3 linked regions of the Homo sapiens genome follow. The protein of the gene in region 2 purifies or fractionates together with the protein of the main gene of each other region. This does not show direct contact. Each region holds a gene or a part of one and is shown on either strand. Other genes may lie near its edges.

Evidence for each region.
Region 1: the proteins of WDR53 (region 2) and EEF1A2 purify together in Homo sapiens (affinity purification with mass spectrometry; 3 studies listed by BioGRID and IntAct, with this or other methods). This does not show direct contact.
Region 3: the proteins of WDR53 (region 2) and RSAD1 purify together in Homo sapiens (affinity purification with mass spectrometry; 3 studies listed by BioGRID and IntAct, with this or other methods). This does not show direct contact.

What each region holds. Positions count from the first base shown.
Region 1 is NC_000020.11:63,488,903-63,496,751, reverse strand, and holds part of EEF1A2 (elongation factor 1-alpha 2), read left to right. Parts: intron 1-716; coding exon 717-896; intron 897-1,650; coding exon 1,651-1,947; intron 1,948-3,464; coding exon 3,465-3,615; intron 3,616-6,016; coding exon 6,017-6,273; intron 6,274-7,599; coding exon 7,600-7,834; intron 7,835-7,849. UniProt on the Homo sapiens protein: Translation elongation factor that catalyzes the GTP-dependent binding of aminoacyl-tRNA (aa-tRNA) to the A-site of ribosomes during the elongation phase of protein synthesis.
Region 2 is NC_000003.12:196,553,157-196,559,246, forward strand, and holds the end of WDR53 (WD repeat-containing protein 53), read right to left. Parts: intron 1,652-6,090; coding exon 1,055-1,651; 3' UTR 1,021-1,054; downstream 1-1,020.
Region 3 is NC_000017.11:50,473,436-50,482,040, reverse strand, and holds the start of RSAD1 (radical S-adenosyl methionine domain-containing protein 1, mitochondrial precursor), read right to left. Parts: upstream 3,182-8,605; 5' UTR 3,157-3,181; coding exon 3,022-3,156; intron 2,413-3,021; coding exon 2,279-2,412; intron 2,162-2,278; coding exon 1,957-2,161; intron 1-1,956. Other genes in the region: ACSF2 (medium-chain acyl-CoA ligase ACSF2, mitochondrial), read right to left, coding at 7,489-7,539, 7,774-7,842, 8,037-8,147, 8,235-8,376.

The sequences.
Region 1 (7,849 bases), on a different chromosome or scaffold from region 2:
TCCAGACTGGGCAGCCTCCTGGAGGGCAGAGTCCTGTCTGTGCGAGGCCCTGGCGAGGAGTTCTGCCCAGCTGGGTAGTGACCGCCGCTGCTGCCCTGACTGAAGCCCGTCCCCTTCTGTGGGGGTCTCACTGGCCGAGGCCCCCCAGCTTCCCGTGTCCGGCAGAGCGAGGAAGGGGAGGAGAAGCCTCAGAGGGATGGGGAGGCTGGAGCAGCGGGAAGGAGCTGCGTGGCCAGGCCCTCCTCCTGACCTCATTCAGTTTTCCTTTCTCCTTACCTTAAAAAAACACACACACACAGAGGGTTATTTATCTGACAGCCCCAAACACGGTGGTATTATTGGCCTCTGGTTGAGGAAGGGATCTGGGGGCGTCCGCAGCTTCAGATAAAGGGGAGCCCTCGCCCGGGAGGGGTTTATCCCATCTGGCGGCTTCGCTCGTAGAGCGAGCGACTCCCAGGCCCTTGCGCCACCTGCTGGTGGACCTGCGTAGCCGCGCCCATTTCGGAGCAGGTGCGGAGGCCGGCCCTGGGGGGCAGGGTCTGGGTGTGGGGTCCCGACGGAGGGGGCCGGCGTCCCAGGACCCCGACGGAGAGCAAGGGGGTGCTGGAGCCCATCTCCCGCCTCTCGCGGCCACTCTGCTGTAACAAGCAGCTCGCACCACCAGGGACTCCTGGGTCCCGGGTCCCGCCCTCAGCCGTGACCCTCACCCGCTCCAGATGGGGAAGGGATCCTTCAAGTATGCCTGGGTGCTGGACAAGCTGAAGGCGGAGCGTGAGCGCGGCATCACCATCGACATCTCCCTCTGGAAGTTCGAGACCACCAAGTACTACATCACCATCATCGATGCCCCCGGCCACCGCGACTTCATCAAGAACATGATCACGGGTACATCCCAGGTGAGCAGGGCACAGCAGGCGGGGCTGGGGGAGAGGCCGCTGCACCCTTCAAGGGACACTGGGGGCCCCTGGGGTCACTGGGATGGTAGGGTCTCCTGTGCTTCCTGTGAGGGCAGGGGACCCCTCACCTGGGCCACCCTCACCCAGTCTGGCTCAGAGCCCCCCTAAGGATGAATCCAGTGCTCTGGCATCTGAACCAGTGCCTGTGAAGGCATCCAGCCAGTGTCAGAGTCCCCAGATAGATGGGGGCAGATGGGGACGTGGACACACCTTCATACATGGAGGGGTTGGAGGCCAGGATGGGGAGAGTGAGCAGTGGGCAGAGGTGCCACCCGCCAGGTGTAGACTGTATGACATTTCAGGGCACTCACAGAGACGCACGGACACCCCAGACACAGCACCCTGCAGACAGCAGGACACATGCCACCACCTCCAAACTGCTTTGATAACTGTGACTTCTATCCGTCCTCAAGTGAGGAACAGGAGCAGATAGGCTGAGTGACTTGTCCAGGGACACACAGCCCACTGGTGGTGGAGCCAGGGCTGAACCTCGGTCCCCTGACCCAGGGCCTGGCGATGAGCCCCCATGCTGCCCTTGAAGTGGGGACCCCCATGCCTCCCTCCCCAAGGCCCCAGTGGGCTGCTCAGGCCCCAGCCCGCTGCCTGGAGAGGCCTGGAAGTGAGGTGGGGCCAGGCTCGCTCTGTCCCCTGCCAGGCAGGCGGGGCAGGGCTCACTGTGTCCCCTGCCGGGCAGGCGGACTGCGCAGTGCTGATCGTGGCGGCGGGCGTGGGCGAGTTCGAGGCGGGCATCTCCAAGAATGGGCAGACGCGGGAGCATGCCCTGCTGGCCTACACGCTGGGTGTGAAGCAGCTCATCGTGGGCGTGAACAAAATGGACTCCACAGAGCCGGCCTACAGCGAGAAGCGCTACGACGAGATCGTCAAGGAAGTCAGCGCCTACATCAAGAAGATCGGCTACAACCCGGCCACCGTGCCCTTTGTGCCCATCTCCGGCTGGCACGGTGACAACATGCTGGAGCCCTCCCCCAACGTGAGTGGCGGCTAGGGCGGGGCGGGCCACGGGAGCTGGCTGGACCCCCTGGCCCAGAGCGAGGCACCGGCAGGTGGCACGGGGAGGTCGAGGGCCTGTCCCCGGGAAATGCAGGTTCCCCTCGAAACCTGCTGGGTTTCCCTAACTGGCTCAGGGCCCGGCGGGGAGCCCCATGCCCCTCAGCACCGGGCTTTGCTCCTACACTCAGCCTCCCACGCGGCTGGCCGGGGCCAGGGCCCATCTACGATGTCAACACAGCAGGGGCAGCGGCCTCCAGCACCAGGCCCATGTGCTTGGTCTCCAGAGCCCTGCCATGGGGGCGGTCGGTTTCATCTCTGCCAGGCCATTGTCCTGGTCCTGGACACCGTGCAGGGGCTTTGGGCTGGGCCGTGGGGGCCTCCTTGGCTGCCTCCCCTGGGATCTTGGAGCAGGGTTGGGCTTTGGGAAGTGTGCATGCTTCTGGGCTTGCTGGGATGGCCAAGGGTTGGCTCTTGGCCGGTCACCTGGGAGCTCAACGTGCGAACAGTCTGTAGCCCAGGGACTCTGCCTTGGCTGGAGGTGACGCGTGGAGACACTTGCAGAACCTGAGACTGTTCCCAGGGTTCTCCAAGCCAGAGGAGACCCCAGAATGGCCACCACTAGGCTCTGCCAGCACTGTCGCTGCCCACAGTGAGGGTGCAGGTGTGGAGTCTAGAGACAGCAGGGAGACAGACCAGCAGCACTGAGCCTGGAGCTGAGGTCTGGGGACAGAACTGGGAGGGACTCCCCCAGCTCCGCCTCCATCTCACGAGGCTCGGTGTTGTTTACCTGTGATGGCGTTTTCCTCATGGGGTATCATGTGGCGAACGCCACTCTCCCCTCCCCAGGGAGGCCTCCAGCCATCAGGGACCCTGCACTCCCCTCTGGCCTGAGCTGCTAGGTGGCTCGTGCTTACACAGGCCCTGGGGGGCTGGGGCACTGTGCTGCCGGCCCCCTCCCCTGCTCCCTGTTTGTGGCAGGTGGCCCAGAGGGAGGCTTCATGGGATGGGAGTGGGGGCCACACTAGGAGAAGCTCCGGACAAGGCTGGGCCAAGCTCGGAGGCAGCACGGTGTCCAGAAGCTAGGGTGGGGCGAGGCTCCTCCAGCTCTGTCCCTGGCCTGGCCCTTGGCCAGACTCAGCATCCTCCTAGTCAAGTCATCTGCCCTGCCTGGAGCTGATGGTCAGGGGCCCGGGGTTTCGGGGACTTGGGGCTGGACTGGGGATTTGTTCACAGTGTCAGCAACTCCTGAGCAGCCTGGGCTGGGAAGGGTGCTTTCCCTCTTTGTCCTCCTCCTTTTAAGAGGGATCTCCTTCCCAGAGTCCCTGTGATGCTGGGGCTATGGGCTGGGGAGGAGCAGGGTGGGGAAATTCCTCATCTCAAAGGGCACGAGGCAAGTTTAGCCTGAACAGCAGTACTCCTGGAAGCACCCTGGGGAGGCCTGAGGGTGGGGAGGCCACCAATGTCTCTTAACGGATTGATTTTCTCCCTTTGGTCCAGATGCCGTGGTTCAAGGGCTGGAAGGTGGAGCGTAAGGAGGGCAACGCAAGCGGCGTGTCCCTGCTGGAGGCCCTGGACACCATCCTGCCCCCCACGCGCCCCACGGACAAGCCCCTGCGCCTGCCGCTGCAGGACGTGTACAAGATTGGCGGTGAGCAAGGGCGCTGTGCTGGAGCTCCTGCCTGGCCAGCTCTGCCTGCCCTAGACCAGGGGCCCCTACAAGGCATCTCAAGACTGGGCTGTCTCCAATCTCTCCCCTTACCACACACTTTCTGTGGGACAGTCCATCCCACATCCATCCATCCATCCACCCACCTCCCCACCCATCCATCCTCTGTCCATCCATCCACCCATCCATCTATCCACCTCTCCATCCATCTATCTATCCATCCATCCATCCATCGATCCATCCATCTCCCCACCCATCCATCCTTCACTCCATCCATCCATCCATCCATTGTCCCATCCATCCTTCTCTCTATCGAACCATCCCTCCATCTCTCCATCTATCCACCTCCCCACCCATCCATCCTTCTGTCCATCAATCCATCCATCCATCCATCCATCCACCTCTCCATCCATCCATCCATCTCCCCACCCATCCATCCTTCTCTCTATCCATCCATCCATCCATCCATCCATTGATTGTCCCACCCATCCATCCTTCTCTCTATCCCTCCATCCATCCATCCATGCATCCATCCATCCATTGTCCCACCCATCCATCCTTCTCTCTATCCATCCATCCATCCTTCCATCCATCCATCCACCTCCCCACCCATCCATCCTTCTGTCCATCCATCCATCCATCCATCTCTCCATCCATCCATCCATCCATCCATTGTCTCAACCATCCATCCTTCTCTCTATCCATCCATCCATCCATCCATCCATCTACCCACCCATCCATCCTTCTCTCTATCCATCCATCTATTGACCCACCCATCCATCCTTCTATCTATCCATCCATCCATTCATCCACTCACCCACCTACCCACCCATCCATCCTTCTGTACATCCATCCATCCATCCATCCACCCACCTACCTATCCATCCATCCTTCCATCCATCCATTTATCCATCCATCCATCCATCCATCTATCCACCCACCTACCCACCCATACATCCATCCATCCACCTCCCCATCCATCCACTTCCCCATCCATCCATCCATCCATCCATCTCCCCATCCACCCATCCACCTCTCTATCCATCCATCTCCCCACCCAGCCATCCTTCCCTCCATCATCCATCCATCCATCTCATCCATCCGTTCATCTCCTCATCCATCCATCCATCCATCCATCCATCCATCCATCCATCCATCCACCTCCCCATCCGTCCGTCCATCCATCCATCCATCCATCTATCCCCCCATCCATCCATCCATCCATCCATCCATCCATCCATCTATCCATCCACCTCCCCATCCATCCATTCATCCACCCACCTTCCTACCCATCCATCCTTCTGTCCATCCACTCATCTACCTCCTCATCCATCCATCCATCCATCCATCCACCAATCCATCCATCCATCTCCCTACTCATCCATCTCCCCACCCATCCTTCTGTCCATCCACCTCCCCATCCATCTACCACCCCATTCATACATCCATCCATCCATCCACCCACCTCCCCATCCATCCGTCCATCCATCCATCCATCCCACCAAGAAGAGAAACCATAAACAAATCTGAGACCCTAGAGAAGGGCACTGATAGGAGACCCCCAGCCAGTGGGCTGCAGCCAAAGATGTTGCAGGCATCTCTGTGTGCACTGTGGGGGCATCATGCTCACCCCAGCACAGAGCACAGCCACTGGCCTCAGTGAAGTTGGCTGGAGGCTACAACAGGCCTCCCTCACAGCCCTGGGAGGTGAGGGTGGAGACCCAGTAGCCTGGGGGGGGACAAGACCCCCATGTGGCAGCTGCACAATTGGTTTAAGTAGATCCATGAGAAATGCCAGGGACGCTCATGTGCCGCTGTGCCTGTGCTGCATCTGGCTGAGAGGCCCCTTTAGTGATAGAGACCTGCAGCATCCAAGTGGGGCCCAGAGAGCCTGCAGGGAGCAGGGAGCAGGGCCTGCAGGGAGCAGGGAGCAGGGCCACCAGGCCCCAGGCAGAAGCAGTCAGTCGCCCCGCCCACACTCACAGGGAGGAGTCCTCAGACAAAGGAGGGGTCCCATAGTGCCTCCTTTGAGGGAAAGTGCTCTCCGGGGGCAAGGATGGGACCCCAGGTTCAGACAGCCCCTCTCTGCCCATCCTCCCGCTTCTCTGTCCCTGTGGCTTTTCCGTGGGTTCCTGGGAGCTCTGCTGCTCAGCCTCTTATTTCCCCAGCTGGGTGGGAGAGCCCCCACTTCCCTTGGAATCTCTGTGTCTGCCCTTGTCCCTGGCCTCCCTTCCCCTGCACTCCGCCCATGTGGCCCCAACCCCCAGGCCTGTCGGGGGGATCCAGTCCCAGGCTTTGTTGGTTTCCAGGCTCTGTCCCCGAATATCCTGCCCCAGCATCCCCTCGGGCCCCACCTTCCCCTCACACCCCCTCCCCTCTGCAGGCATTGGCACGGTGCCCGTGGGCCGGGTGGAGACCGGCATCCTGCGGCCGGGCATGGTGGTGACCTTTGCGCCAGTGAACATCACCACTGAGGTGAAGTCAGTGGAGATGCACCACGAGGCTCTGAGCGAAGCTCTGCCCGGCGACAACGTCGGCTTCAATGTGAAGAACGTGTCGGTGAAGGACATCCGGCGGGGCAACGTGTGTGGGGACAGCAAGTCTGACCCGCCGCAGGAGGCTGCTCAGTTCACCTCCCAGGTGGGGGGCTGCGCTGGGTCCAGGGGGCTGGCGCCTGCTGGACAGCAGCAGGACTGTCCTGGGTGAGGCTGCTGTCGGCAGGTGGCCTGGCGTGGGGAGAAAACCAGACCCTCAGGCTGGGCGCAGTGGTTCACGCCTGTAATCCCAGCACTTTGAGAGGCCGAGGCGGGCAGATCACGAGGTCAAGAGATCAAGTCCATCCTGGTCAACATGGTGAAACCCCGTCTCTACTAAAAATACAAAAATTAGCCAGGCGTGGTGGCACGTGCCTGTAGTCCCAGCTATCAGGAAGCTGAGGCAGGAGAATCGCTTGAACCTGGGAGGCGGAGGTTGCAGTGAGCCGAGATTGCGCCACTGCACTCCAGCCTGCGTGACAGAGCGAGACTTCGTCTCAAAAGAAAAAAAAAAAAAGAAAAGGGACCCGCATACCACCGAGGGGGCCACCGAGCACTCAACGAGGGGATCAATCAGTTCTGGGAGGGGTGCAGGCCCTGTGGCTCCCAGCCTGTGTGCAATCGCGGGTCTGTCTTCCACGCTGCACTGCTGGGATGCCCAGCCTTTGAGGTCCTACATTCGTCCTAGAAAAACGCTTTTGTTAACTTACTGTCTGAGACATCTCTGTCATACTTTTATTCTCTACAGTCTTCATTGCCCCTCTTTGCTGGCCTCTTCATATGATTTATTTATTTTTTTTTTGAGACGGAGTCTCGCTCTGTTGCCCAGGCTGGAGTGCAGTGGTGCGATCTCGGCTCACTGCAACCTCCGCCTCCCGGGTTCAAGTGATTCTCCTGCCTCAGCCTCCCAAGTAGGTAAGATTACAGGCATGTGCCACCACGCCTGGCTAATTTTTGTATTATTAGTAGATACGGGGTTTCACCATGTTGGCCAGGCCGGTCTCGAACTCCTGACCTCAAGTGATCCACGTGCGTCAGCCTCCCAAAGTACTGGGATGACAGGTGTGAGCCACCGTGCCTGGCCTCTTCATATGATTTTTAAAAGTGGCTTTATTGAGATACAACTGAAACACAGGAATTGAGGTCCAGTTTTGTCACCCCCCCGCCTTAGTTCCAGCTGGGGTTGGCCGTGTAAGTGCTGCCCCTGCCCCTTCGAAACAATGAATCTCAGTTGTTTATCTTTTGCTTAATGAGGATGTTGAGGTTCAGGTCTGGGGGCTGGGTCCTCAGAGCCTGAGCCCCCTCCAGTCAGCACTCCGGGCCCAGGAGCCCGTGCAGGGGCGCCGGTGACTGGGCCTCCCAGCCCCGCTCTGGCGCCCTCCCGGTGCCCACCGCCGATGTGCCTGATGGCCGCCTGTGGCTCCGCTCGCAGGTCATCATCCTGAACCACCCGGGGCAGATTAGCGCCGGCTACTCCCCGGTCATCGACTGCCACACAGCCCACATCGCCTGCAAGTTTGCGGAGCTGAAGGAGAAGATTGACCGGCGCTCTGGCAAGAAGCTGGAGGACAACCCCAAGTCCCTGAAGTCTGGAGACGCGGCCATCGTGGAGATGGTGCCGGGAAAGCCCATGTGTGTGGAGAGCTTCTCCCAGTACCCGCCTCTCGGTGAGCCGGGGTGGT
Region 2 (6,090 bases):
CAATCCAGGCCTCAATGAAAAGGAACATAACTCTTGACACCCTATCTAGGCCTCTATTCTCTTTTCTATCTTCTGCTTCGTCAGAATTTCTGCTTATTAATAACTGCAACTTATTCTCACTCCACCAGCATCATGGCCTGGATTGCTGCATAATACCCTAAACTGATTTGACCCTGGAACCCTTTTTGTTTTTTAGAAACACAGCAAAAGGTAATTGTCAGCAAAGCAATTTGGGCTTTACACAGAACAAGCAAGAACAGGTTTCCTCTTCCAACTTGGTAATGCTCCTCATGACATCCTGGGATCAGAAATAACTAATGTTATTTATTTATTTATTTAGAGACAGAGTCGCTCTGTCACCTAGGCTAGAGTGCAGTGGTGTGATCTTGGCTCACTGCAACCTCTACCTTCTGGGTTCAAGCGATTCTCCCGTCTCAGTCTCCTGAGTAGCTTGGATTACAGGCACGTGCCACTAGGCCCAGCCAATTTTTGTATTTTTAGTAGAGATGGGTTTTTGCCATGTTGGCCAGGCTGGTTTCTAACTCCTGACCTCAGATGATCTGCCCGCATCGGCCTCCCAAAGTGCTGGGATTACAGGCGTGAGTCACTGCGCCTGGACAGAAATAACTAATATGGTGACCAATTTGGACCAGGATGTGGGCTTCCCTACGGTAGGCAGCTTAACAAGGTCCTTTCCAGACAAGTCGTTGTGCCTGCAATTTTCCTGGATCTTTAAGTTACTTAACATTTCTAAGTCTTAATTCCTGTGGCACTAAAATGGGGGAAATCACTTCAATGATTCGGAACAAGAAATCAAATATACGTAAAATGGCTGGTACATGGTACACAATGAATATTCATTCTCTTCCTCCAAACTTTAACATATCACTTACTATATAAATATCCAATTGTCTTTTGTTCAAATATCTTAAAATTTGTACAGCAGAAGAGTATGATTTTACATATAACAAACAGCTTAAATAAAGAACCAGGAGCTTTTTTTTTTAATCTGAAAAACAGTTTTGCCACAATTCTTCAAATGTTTTTATTGGATTTAAAATTCATTTAAGGGGTATACAGATATACAACTAGTTTGATCAGCTACTAATATATTTTGGTGTCCCTTTATTTTTGTACCCAAGAGCCAGTTCACTTTTTCTCCATGTTCAATATTTAGCTTTGGTAAAATGTTGCCATGTTCTTCCTCATCTGTTACTGAAGCGTTAGTATTTCCACCCTGCTTGGTGCAAGTTCCTCTTTTAGGTTTCTTCCTGTGGGTACGTTTTGTGGGACTCTTCTGTTTTTTCTCAACTTCACTGTTTGCATCCCACAACGTGATCTTCCCATCATTCCCTCCAGTAAGCAGCAAATAGGATTCTGGGAGAAAGCAGACCTGGGATACCCCTGAAGTGTGGCCCTTAAATCCCAGTTCCTGTTCACACTTAACTCCCATCACCCGAAAGATTCGAACCTTACCATCTTCTGCACCACAACTAAAAATATTACCACACGAAGCCACAGAGATAGAATGGGCTAGGGCAGGGTTTAAGAGCTGACCAGGTGACTGTGGGCCTTCCATTTCTTCTGTTTCATCCTCCTGTAAATTTGTAATCCAGAGTGGTCGGGCTTTTTGAAGACTCCACAGCATCACCTTTACATAAGAAGAAATTACACAGTCATACAAAATGCTAGCCAATTTGCTCAACTATCATGCTTATTCAGCTTCTAATAAAATCGTTAAAGTAGTCTGAGAATGAGCAGTAGTGCACGTTCTCAGCAGTATTAAAAAATAATCAAATGCTGCCATAACATGCCAGTGGAATGCTACCCCGGGACTAAAACTAGAGTGCGGTTAGGTAGAATTAAACAAGATCCTGAATAATTTTTGATTAATAAACTCCATTAAAGTGTAATTGTTAAGCAGCTGCCAGTTTCTAAAGGTTTTTCTGCTCTCATCTCTTCAAGTAAAACCAAAGATTATCAAATTTGCTAGTTTTAGTCTATGCTGGTTATAGGTCAAAAGGCCTATCAACTAAATAAACTCGATCTGGACTATCATTGAAATGCTTTCCATCTGGAATGCCTTCCTTTCCTTTCACATTACCCAATTACCCATCCAAGGGGCTTAAGCTCAGTCCTGGTGCCTCCAAGAAGGCTTTCCTATTTCAGCCCGCTTCTCCTTCCTGTATCTAGTTTCTATTCTATTAATTGACATATTCTACTAGCTTATCAGTTTCTTGAGACTTACTTAGTCTTTGCTAATGCCTAGCATAATGGCTGAGAAAGAGGAGAAATTCCAAACATGTCTGTTGATTAATATGACATCCTGGTATTAATTTCATTTGGCTTTTCGTTGTTCCCGACCTGGTGCTTTTTGTTTTTTTTAAATAAGCTTTGTGAATGGGTTTTACATTATCATCTAGTGATTCATTCTTTTCCTGTATCAACCATTTTGCAAAGAAAAATACTCTTAATACTTTCAAAGCAAACAGACAGCTTTATCATGTAGTTTACCATCATCCCTGAATTATAACTCACAATTTTAACAGACACTGGAAGAAGCATGAGCTTGTTTAGACAGTGAAAAGCATAGATCTGAATTGGCAAGATTACTATTGCTAATGCTATTAAGAATTTGGTTTCCTATTCAAGGTAACTTCCCTTATGATTATTCTCAGTGGCCTATTTTCAAAAGCAGTGACATCTAGTAACACTTACATTCTGCTTCTCTTAGATGAAAATCTCTTTGAATTGGATTTATAACATTATACTATGTGACTAACAATCACTGTTTGGGTGAAGTTAAAGTACGAACAAATTGAAATAAGCTAAAGTAAAATAAATAAATATTAGAAAATATAACACGAAGGAGTGCTGAAACTTGATATGAAAATAGTTTTTTTTTTAAAAATAGGGTCTCACTTTGTCACCCAGGCTAGAGTGCAGTGGCATGACCATGGCTCACTGCAGCCTTGACCTCTTGGGTTCAAGTGATCCTTCCACCTCAGCCTCCCAAGTAGATGGGACTACAGGCGCATGCTACCACACCCAGCTAATTTTTGTATTTTTTTGTAGAGATGGGGTTTTTGCTATGTTGCCCAGGCTGGTCTCCAACTGCTGGGCTCAAGCGATCCACTCATCTCCACCTCCCAAAGTGATGGGATTACACGCATCAGCCACAATGCCCCAAAACAGTTTCTATTAAAAAATCTGAACACGGCTGGGCACGGTGGCTCACACCTCTAATCCCAGCACTTTGGGAGGCTGAGGTGGGCGGATCACGATGTCAGGAGATCGAGACCATCCTGGCTAACACAGTGAAACTGCATCTCTACTAAAAATACAAAAAATTAGCTAGGCATGGTGGTGGGCGCCTGTAGTCCCAGCTACTCGGGAGGCTGAGGCAGGAGAATGGCGTGAACCTGGGAGGCAGAGCTTGCAGTGAGCCGAGATCACACCATTGCACTCCAGCCTGGGCAACAGAGCAAGACTCCGTCTTTAAAAAAAAAAAAAAGAAAATACACACACACACACACAGAAAATGGACATTCTAGAATCTGCTAGCTTCACTGTATTGGCAGATAGACCCAGTTCTTTCTCATACAGCCCTTATGAATGGACTGTATTTTCTGTCCTCCAAAGACATTCAAACATGCACTGCACCCAGAGTGTTTCAGCAGCTGAAACACCTTTTGTATTTGACTTAAATCATCTAAATGTGTTAACAGCCATCCCAGATTCTACCAAGTCTAGAATCATTTCCACGTATTGAGGATTCCAGACTGTTCCTGTCTGGACATTCCCTTTATGCTTCTTGACTTTTCTAAAATGCTAAAGACTCCAAGGTGTTTCACACTTAATTTCTCAACCAGCTGTTCAAGCAGTTCTCATCCTAATCAAGAGAGCTAGAGATACTGAAAGAAAAGAATAAAGAGTTTGGGGCTTATGGTTCTGCAAAACATCGAAGGGAGAAAAAGTGGGGAACCAGCAAATGTTCAGAAGTGAATGTAATCATAACAAAGTGACCTTTCAAAACAAATTCCCCTTTTACAAAAACATTTCTTTCCACATAAAAGACTCGTCTTCAAGATAAAGAGCCTCTTCAGGCCAGGTGCAGTGGCTCATGCCTATAATCCCAGCACTTTGGGAGGCCATGGCAGGACTGCTTGAGCCCAGGAGTTCGAGACCAGCCTGGGGAACACAGGGAGCCAGCCCTCCTCTGCAGCAAAAATAAAAAAAATTAGCTGGGTGTGTCGGCTTGTGCCTGTAGTCCCAGCTATGCAGGAGGATGAGGTGGGAGGATCACCTGAGGGAGTGCGAGGCTGCGGTGAGCTCTAATTGTACCACTGCACTCCAGCCTGGATGACAAAGACCCTGTCTCAAAAACAAACAAACAAAAGAGCCTTCTCTACCATCCTGGTCTGTAAGTGTTGGGATTTTGGTTTTAAAAATCCAGAAAGAACAACAAACCTTTCAATCATTTGTTTTCAGATGCAGAAAGGGGCAGGGAAAGAAAATCAACATGTATGCTACAGAAATATGACAGTTTTAATTTTCTAAGTCTTTCAAGAAAAAAACTATAGTTGAATGGTAGGTATACAGGTATTTATTTAATTTTTTTTCTTTTCTTTTTTTTTTTTTGAGACAAGGTCTCACTGTCACCCAGGCTGGAGTGCAGTGGCACAATCTTGGCTCACTGCAACCTCAACCTCTCGGGATCAAGCAATTCTCCCGTCTCAGCCCCCCAAGTAGCTGGGACTACAGGTGCTCACTACACACCTGGCTACTTTTTGTATCTTTTGTAGAGATGGGGTTTCGCTATGTTGCCCAGGCTGGTCACAAACTCCTGAGCTCAAGCGATCCACCTGCCATGGCCTCCCAAAGTTCTGGGATTATAGGCATGAGCCACTGCGCCTGGCCTAATGTTATCCTTTACACCTCATATATATAAATATTACTTTGTACCTATTAAATAAAAAATTAAGCAGTCTCACGTGTCTTAAAGAACCACACTTTGCTTTTAGGGTCCCTGCCTCTTTGAATGCGCTTTGCCTATTTTATTTTTTTGAGACAGGGTCTCACTTTGTCATCCAGGCTGGAGTGCAGTGGCGAGATCATGGCTCACTACAACCTCCACCTCCCTGGGCTCAGGTGATCCTCCCACGTCAACTTCCTAAGTAGCTGGGACCACAGGTGGATGCTAGCACACCTGGCTAATTTTCGTATTTTCGGTAGAGATAGGGTTTTGCCATGTTGTCCAGGCTGGTCTCGAACTCCTGGGCTCAAGTGATCTGCCTGCCTTGGCCTCCCAAAGTGCTGGGATCCCAGGCATGAGCCCTCAGGCACATAAGCTACCACACCTGGCCCTGCCTAATTATTTAAACCTAAGTCAAAAGACATAACTTTATAATTACTGTTACATAAGAAAAAAGATAGGTATGCTGAACATGGCAATCATTCAATTCCTGCCTTGAGATAAAATTTGTTTGCTCAGAGAGAAGTAACTCAAAATAGTCAGAACTCCCTTCCACTATTACTGTGCCTACATTCTTGGGCTCCCCCATAGACTGGCTATCCTTAAAGTTTAGGATAATACTGGATCAACAGGTTTTAGGAAGACAACTGTGGAAATAATTATAGAGTTTCAACTTCAGTTAAGGAAGTCATTTCTTAAAAGCATGGTTGTATGGCTGTTACATCACAACCCAGTGTAGAAACAAATCTACCATGAACCTTTAGCAATTTTACCAGGCAAATCAAAATAAGAAATTACCTGAGCCTCCCTTTTTCAAAATACTTGTTTCCAGGGCTGTTCACTAGCAAGTGCCTGCCACTAAAACGTCTTACCTGGAACTGGGGGCAAGACAGTAAATTCTGAATGCCCATTCCTCATCTAATCTGAAAAGTACACATCACTTTTGCGTACCCAATTGTCTATTGCCATGCCTAGTGGTTAATGAACCACTGATGGAAAAGTGGTACAGCTGAAGGATGACAGAATGACTACTCAAAGACACACTGTACAATCTGCCTACTTAAAACATATCCATCTGGTTGTATAGGTCTTTCTTTACAACCACAAGGGCAGAT
Region 3 (8,605 bases), on a different chromosome or scaffold from region 2:
GAACCCTCCTCCCCATTGTAGACACAGATACAGGGAGAACGCAGCACGTGGCAGGCAGCTGGAAGGCAGGAGGGGGAAGGTCAAGCTGGCACCAAGAGCTGCCATTCACAGAAGGGTCGCTATGTGCCAAGCACCTTTATGTAGTGTCTAATTTAATCTTTGTAACCCTCCAATATTAGTTCTATTTTACAGATGAGAAAACTGAGGTTCAGAGGTGTTAAGTAACTTGTCCAGGCCATACAGTTGCAAAGTTCGACCTGGAATTTAGGACTGTCTGACTCCAAAATCAAGTCTTTATTTACTTTACTTTTCAATTTTAAATAATTCTAACCTATAGAAAAGTTGAAAGAAAATCACAAAAAAAACCTTCATCTTGATTCACCATTTGTCCATATTTGTTTCTCTTTAAACATACATACCTGTTATTATGCTGAATCATTTAACAGTAAATTATAAACCAGCACTGTCCAAAAGAACTTTCTACAATGGTGGAAATGTTCATATCTGTACTGTCCAATATGATAGGTAGTAGCCACATGTGGTTATTTAAATTTAAGTGAATTAAACTTAACTTACCACATTTCAAATGCTCACTAGTCTGTGGCTAGTGGCCACTATATTGAATAGCAGTTATAGATATTATACTCCCTAACCTCTAAATACTTAGGTGTGTATTTCCTAAAGAACAAGGACATTCTCTTACATAACTGCAATCCAATTACAGAGTTCAGGAAATGCAACACTGACACAACACCATTACATAATACATTGTCATATTCAAATTTGGCTAATGGTCCCAATAACATCTACTGTAGTAATTTCCTCCTTCCTCCCCAGTCAGGGGCCACACATTGTATTCAGCTGTCTCTTCTGTCTCCTTTAGATTCTCAGCCTTTCTTTGTCTCTCATGACACTGGCATTTTTGAAGAATACAGGCCAGTTGTTTAAAATGAATAATTTAATGAATTTAAATAAATTATTATTATTTACGAATTATAATTATTTAAATGAATTATTTAAAATGAATAATTTCTACAGATTGGCTGTATAACACTGTGCTTATAGTTAACAGTGCTGTATGTACATTTAAAAACTTGTTAAGACGGTAGATCTCATGCTGTCTGTTCTTACCACAATAATTTTGTAAAAATCTCTTAATTCAGGGTTTCCTGACAATTAGATTCAAGATATGCGCTTTGGGGTAAGAATATCTTAGAAGTGATGTGTTTCTGTCAGCATATTCCATCAGAACAAAGCCCACAACCCGGAAGTCCTACGGAAATATCGGAGGTCAACCTGAGACGACTAGGTTTCTCCCTACTTAAAAACCTTCAATGGCTCCCTATCATTACTAGGACAAAACCCACACTCCTTAGTAGGCACCAAAGGTTTTGGACTCTACCTTGCAACCTTGTTTCCAGCCTCTCCAATCACAAGGAATGACTCACAACTCCCCCAAAACATGCCAGGCTCTTCCATGGCCTGTGTCGTTTCCCCCACACCCCCTCACCTGGTGAACTCTTCCTCTTCATTCAAACATCTCCTCCAGAGAAGTTTCAGTGATTTCATCAGAGTGACCTCCCTTCAGGCTGTACTCTAGAAGCCTTTTATAGAGACCCCCTTTACAGGTGACATTTACCATGCTGCAATAATCTGGCTACATGTCTGCGTCTCCCGTGTCATGTAGCAAATCTTTTTTGACCACCTACTATGTGCCAGGCACTATGGTAAGTGTTTGAAATAGAAAAGCCACACCTGATCCCTTTCTCATAAAGTCTGTGGTCTATGACAGCAGCAGACAATTAAGGAGTTATAAAAGTGTCGCACTAGGCCCTACTGTGTCCCTGGCACCCAGAAGGTGCTCAATCAATGTTTGCCCAATGAATGAATGTGACCAAAGAGGAGATGGCACTGAAGGGCGGGGTGCACTGGGATGGGGTGAGTGCCATGGGTTACCTGGAGGCCTATAGACAACCTGTTAACCCCTGCTGCCCCGAACTCTGCCAGTCTGGAGCCCGGAGCTGAAGTAGGATTAGCCTCCAATGTGACTTCCAAGTCTGCAGGCAGGTGGGCTGCCTGTGCCACAGCCTCCAGGACAGCAGCCACCGTGTGGGGACTGGCTAGACTGGGGGTCCCCCCACCAAAGAACACAGACTCCACCCTGGGGAAAGAGAATGGAGAAATGAGACCTGGGGGAGCCCTCTGGGATGCCTGCACCTATCCCCCACCACTCCTCCAAATATTTCCCAAAACGCTGCCTACAGCCCCCACTACCCACCGTTGCACCCCGCTGAGCCGCAGCAGCGTCTGAGCTTCGGTCACCAGACACTTCTGCATGGCAGCCTCCTCCAGGCGGCGAGGGATGTACTTGTTGAAGTTGCAGTAACTGCAGCGCTTCTCGCAGTAAGGCCACTGGGGGCAGTGAGTGCACGTGCGCGGTGAGAGCTGCCCTGGCCACTTCCAGGGTTCAGTCGCACACACCCCCAACCCCACCCCCACCCCTATCCCGAGGTCTTTCCACAGTAGCTAGGACATCTAAGCCACACAACTCCCCAAGGCAGGTCGCACTGGGGTTATTACATCCACTTCAATGTGAGAAAACTGAGGCTCACTCCTTTGTTACGCTGCCTCTTCCAACCAGCAGACGTCAGGAAGGAATTCAACCCAAGCTCTTTCTGGGATCATATAATTTTCATACAATTTTCCTATGAGCCATTTTCCCAGCTACCGAGTCAGAACACTGCTCTTAAGAAAATTTTGTCTTGCTAAGAGGAAAATTGTTATGAAATTTGAACCATTTGGTCAGAGTCACCGAGCCGGTGAGTAGCAGAGACTTCAGGTTTCTGGACCAAGTCATTTCCCTGCCAAAGCACAGGGTCCCATCCCAGACCTCGTACGGGGGCACGGAAACACGGCAGGCGGGTTCATAGAGTGACAAACCGCCACCTGGGTTTTGGACGGCCACGGTCACGGCCAGGGCTGCGGCCACACACCGTGGGCTCCGCCCCCGCCCCTACTCACGTGTACGTAAAGCGCCGCGCGCCGGCCCGCAGGCTCAGGACTCGGGGACCCTCCTGCGTTCTCCACGCGGCGGCGCCTCTGGGCCGCTCTGGCTGCTGCCGCCCAGCCGCGAGCCCGGGCTCCGGGGAGCGCCATGGCGCCCAGCGCAGCGCGGCGCACTGACCCGAGCAGGAGACGCGCGCAGGGATCACTGTGAGTGCGCAGCCGGCGGAAGGAAGAGGGGCTGCGTGACCGCGCGACAAGAGGGCCCGGGCCCGGGGCTGCGGCGCCACCTGCCGGGCGCCCGGGCGCTCACTGCGGCCTCCTGTCGGTTCTTTCCCCAGGCCGCGAGGCGGGCTGCTTGCCTTTTGGCACCTTGTGCCCGGGCGAGTTCCCGGACCCATCCAGGAGCTCTTAGTTTGTTCAGTCAATTCCTTGACATTTGATGTGCCTGGCTCAGAACTGGGCGCTGGGGACATCTAGGTGCATAAAGCCAGGTTGCATTCTGGCAGGAGAGAGGCAAGCCAACCGGCCAGGACAGGCAAGGCGTATTAATTCCGTGCCTGCTGGACACCAGAGCCGTCCGCCTCAGTGCTGTGAGGTCATCTGTTTTAAGAGTGTGGGAGTCAGTAGGGCAGAAGAGACACTTGGGCTGGATCTTTCTTTTAATTTCATTTACAAATATTTGGGAGAGGGGAGGTCTTGAACTCCTCGGCCTCAAGCGATCCTCCTGCCTCAGCATCTAGAGTAACTAAGGATTAAGGGCATGAGCCACCACCAGGGCTATGCACGGGATCTTGGAGGAGCAGAAAATCCCAGGGGCAATTGGCTTGGCCGGGAGAGTAGACTGTTTTGGGTCAGGCCAACCCAAGCATCTGGAGGTGTACGTGCTGGAAGGACAGTCAGATGGTGTGTGTAGGAGAGAGGGGGAAGGCGCAGGGGAAGGCCTGGGGAAGCAGGCACCTGAACAACTGTCCCACAAAGCAGAAACATCATGGGCTTCAGAGGCAGGCGGTGCAGGACAGTTCTCCCAGTGGCCTTGAACTGACCTGGTTCTCCCCTCCTTTCTTGCTTGTAGTTCTCAAGAATAACTGTAGACGCCTGTAATCCCAGCACTTTGGGAGGCCGAGGCGGGCAGATCACTTGAGATCAGAAGTTCAAGACCAGCCTAGCCAACATGCTGAAACCCCGTCTTTACCAAAAATACAAAAATTATCCAAGCGTGGTGGTGGGCACCTGTAATCCCAGCTACACGGGAGGCTGAGCAGGGAGAATCCCTCGAACCTGGGAGGCGGAGGTTGCAGTGAGCTGAGACAGTGCCACTGCACTCCAGCCTGGGTGATGGAGCAAGACTGTCTCAATAAATAAATAAATAAAACTGTAGAGTGTGCAGAGAATGCAACATCCTGAGGGAAGGAAGGACTGGCCAGCACAGCCATGCTCTGTTCCAGTCCCCCTAGAAAAAGCATGTCCTTCAACACTTCAGCCCAACATGTCACATGGCCCCAGGGTATAAAGCCCAGGGCAGAAGCCGGGCGCGGTGGCTTACTCCTGTAATCCCAGCACTTTGGGAGGCCGATGCGGGCGGATCATAAGGTCAGGAGATTGAGACCATCCTGGCTAACACGGTGAAACCCCGTTTTTACTAAAAATACAAAAAACTAGCCAGGTGTGGTGGTGCGTGCCAGTAGTCCCAGCTACCCGGGAGGCTGAGGCAGGAGAATTGCTTGAACCTGGGAGGCGGAAGTTGCAGTGAGCCCAGATGGCGACACTGCACTCCAGCCTGGGAGACAGAGTGAGACTCTGTATCAAACAAACAAACAAACAAACGAAAAACAGGGCGGGCTGGTTTCTGGGGTCCCTCAGCTTCAGTACAAGTCTGGCTGGCTGGGCGTGGTGGCCCATGCCTGTTATCACAACACTTTGGGAGGCCGAGGCGGGTGGATCACCTGAGGTCAGAAGTTCAAGACCAGCCTGGCCAACATGGCGAAACTGTTTCTACTAAAAAAAAAAAAAATAGCTGGACGTGGTAGTGCACGCCTGTAATCCCAGCTACCAGGGAGGCTGAGGCAGGAAAATTGCTTGAATCCCAGGGTTCACACCACTGCACTCCAGCCCGGGTGAAAGAGCGAGACTCCATCTCACAACAAACCAACAACAAAAAAAAAAGTCAGGCATGCACAGACAACGGTCCATCCCCCAGCTGCCTCAGCAGCTTTCCTGAGCCGTAGGGGTCCAGCTCCAAATGAATCCCAGCCTTCTGTTGTCCCTTAGTGCCTACCTATAGGTAATAAACACGTTGCATGTCACTTGTGTTTGCCTCGCTGGACTCAGCGTTATGTAACTTGTGGGTGTTTGCCTCACTGGACTCTGACAAGTTGGTAACTAGTGTGCAGTGAACCTGCCTAACAGACAGCTGGGTTCTGATCCAGCTGTGTGACCTTGAGCAAGATACGGAACCTCCCTGAGTTTCTGTTGGGTCATTGGTGAAGTGGGACCAATGGCTACTTGAAAGGATTGTTGGGAAGATTTGGAGAGAAAATAATGTGAAAGTACCTAGCACAGAGCCTGGTACTGAAAATACCTTAAACCTATGTTCATTTCTTAAAAAGTCAAGAGGAGGCTGCTGCTGCCTTGGGCAGGCACGCTGGGAGGTAAGGGGGCAGGCACGCTGCGAGGTAAGGGGGCAGGCGCGCTGCGAGGTAAGGGGGCAGGCGCGCTGGGAGGTAAGGGGGCAGGCGCGCTGCGAGGTAAGGGGGCAGGCGCGCTGGGAGGTAAGGGGGCAGGCGCGCTGCGAGGTAAGGGGGCAGGCGCGCTGCGAGGTAAGGGGGCAGGCGCGCTGGGAGGTAAGGGGGCAGGAGCGCTGCGAGGTAAGGGGGCAGGCGCGCTGCGAGGTAAGGGGGCAGGCGCGCTGGGAGGTAAGGGGGCAGGCGCGCTGGGAGGTAAGGGGGCAGGCGCGCTGGGAGGTAAGGGGGCAGGCAGGAGGCAAGTTTCCATTCCTGTGAACTGGGAATCTATGTGCCTTTTGGAACCCAGCTGTTTTTATTTCTTGGGTCAAGGTACAACCTGCTTTATCTGGCCCTGCCTACGAGGGATGCCCCAGGTTCACCAATCAAAACAAATAAAAACTAAAAATGAGGTTGGTTGGGGAGGAAGGGGGCTGGGAGATGGGAGATAATAGTTAAAGAGTATGGGGTTTCTTTCTTAGGTGATGACAATATTTAAAATTGACTGTGGTGATAGTTACACATATTTGTGAATATACTAAAGACCACTGAATTCTATACTTTAAATGGTAGATTGTCCCAGCACTTTGAGAGACTGAGGCAGGAGGATTGCTTGAGCCCATGAGTTCTAGACCAGCCTAGGCAACATAGCAAGATCCTGTGTCTATGTTTAAAAATTAGTTAAGACATGGTGGCACATTCCTACAGTCCCAGCTACTCAGGAGGCTGAGGTGGGAGGACTGCTTGAGCCCAGGAGTTCGAGGCTGCAGTGAGCTATGATCATGTCGCTACAGTGAGTCACTGCACTCCAGCACGGGTGACGGAATGAGATCCTGTCTCTAGAAAATGGGGGAGGTGGGAGTGAACTGGAGAGTATGTGAATTACATCTCAATCAAGCTGTTATACATATATAAAAAGAATACTTCTTGCTAGACTAATCTGGCAACAATGTGAAAAAGAATTAAATTAGAGTAGCTTAAAAATAAAAAATTGGGGCCAGGCGCAGTGGTTCATGCCTGTAATCCCAGCACTTTGGTAGGCTGAGGCAGGCGGATTGCTTGAGGTCAGGAGTTTGAGGACCAGCCTGGCCAACATGGTAAAACCTCGCCTCTACTAAAAATACAAAAGTTAGTTGGGTGTGGTGGTGGGTATCTGCAATCCCAGTTACTTGGGAGGGTGAGGAAGGAGAATCACTTGAATTAGGGAGGCAGAGGTTGCAGTGAGCTGAGATCGCATGACTACACTCCAGCCTGGGTGACAGGGCAAGACTCTGTCTCAAAAAACAAGAACAACAACAAAAATGGGTTGGTATCTCAAAGGGATACCAAGGGTGAGGGTTAAATTAAGTAGATAATCCACATCAAGGTGCTCTGCACTCTCAATGACAAGGAATAGGACGTCTGAAAGTGCTAGTTCCCCTCAGTGTCTTCCCTTCTCCATCCTGTAGTAGCTGCCAAGAGAGCCCACCAGCAAGAAGCCAAAGAAAACAGAAGCTCTTTATGCCAAATCACAAGGACAGACAGGGGAATGTGGGGGATGGACAGGAGGGAGGGCCTGGGCAGGCTGCCTGCCTTTTGGCACCTTGTGCCCAGGCGAGTTCCCGGACCCATCCAGGAGCTCTTAGTTCGTTCAGTCAATTCCTTGACATTTGATGTGCCTGGCTCAGAACTGGGTGCTGGGGACATCTAGGTGCATAAAGCCAGGTTGCATTCTGACAGGAGAGAGTCAAGCCAACCGGCCAGGACAGGCCTGCTGCTTTATTCACAGATTTAGATGTCGTTCCATCTGCTCTCGAAGTTTGAATTTCTGGATCTAGAGGAAAGAAAATGGAGTTAGGGTTACCAGCTGTCTTGGTTCACCCAAGAATAAGGGGTTTCTCAGGCTCTTAGTGCCAAAACAGGGAAAGTCCCCAGGCAAACCAGGATTAGGTGACCCGGTCACCCTACTGCCAGTCTCTCCACACCCATTGCTGAAGGAAACAGAGGTGGGGCCCTATGGGGCCCCAGAGCCCAGGCTGCCCTCCCCAGCCTCCTCCACCTTACACACCTTTCCTGAAATGGTGAGGGGGTAGTTTGTGACAAACACGATGTACTTCGGAATCTTGAAGTGAGAGATCTGCAGACCAGAGGGAGGGAGGTAAGGCGTGAGGCTGCGCAAGCTCACAGGGGTATGGGTAGGGGACCAGGGGCTGGCCTGGCCAGGAGTCAGCTTCGTCAAGGGCAGAGCAATCCCCACCCTGGGCTGGTTGGCAGAGGAGTGGGTGAGCAAAGAACAGAGCAGCATCAGCTAGGTTGAGCGGAGGCTCCCACCTTCCCTTTGCAGAAAGCTTTTATCTCCTCCACCGTGGTCTCCTCCCCGTCCTTCAGCCGAATGCAGGCACAAATCTCTTCCCCCATCCGATCGTCCTTCACTCCCACCACCTTCCAGGGCCAAAGAAAAATATCAGACATCACCGTGTTCATGTGTGTTTCTTGTTTCTGGGGGCTCACCTGAGCCAAGTGCCTCACCTGCACTTCCTGCACCTTCGGGTGTGTGTGAAAGAAGTCCTCGAGCTCTGCGGGGTAGATGTTCTCACCACCCCGGATGATCATATCCTTAGAGCGGCCCACGATCTTGCAGAAGCCCTGCTCATTCATTGTGGCGACATCTCTGTAAGGAAAGCCCAGGGGCAACCTGTCATCTCTGCCTTGTTCACTCACTTGCTTGCTCAGTCGTGAAACATTTATTGACCAGCTACTATGTGTCTTCCACTGCTCTAGACTCTGGGAGACATAGCAGGAACAAGACACAGTCTCTGGAATTAATAGTCCAGTAAGGGGAGGGGAGGTAGACAAAAACAAAACAATACCTATAACATATTCTGTCTCTCTCAACACAT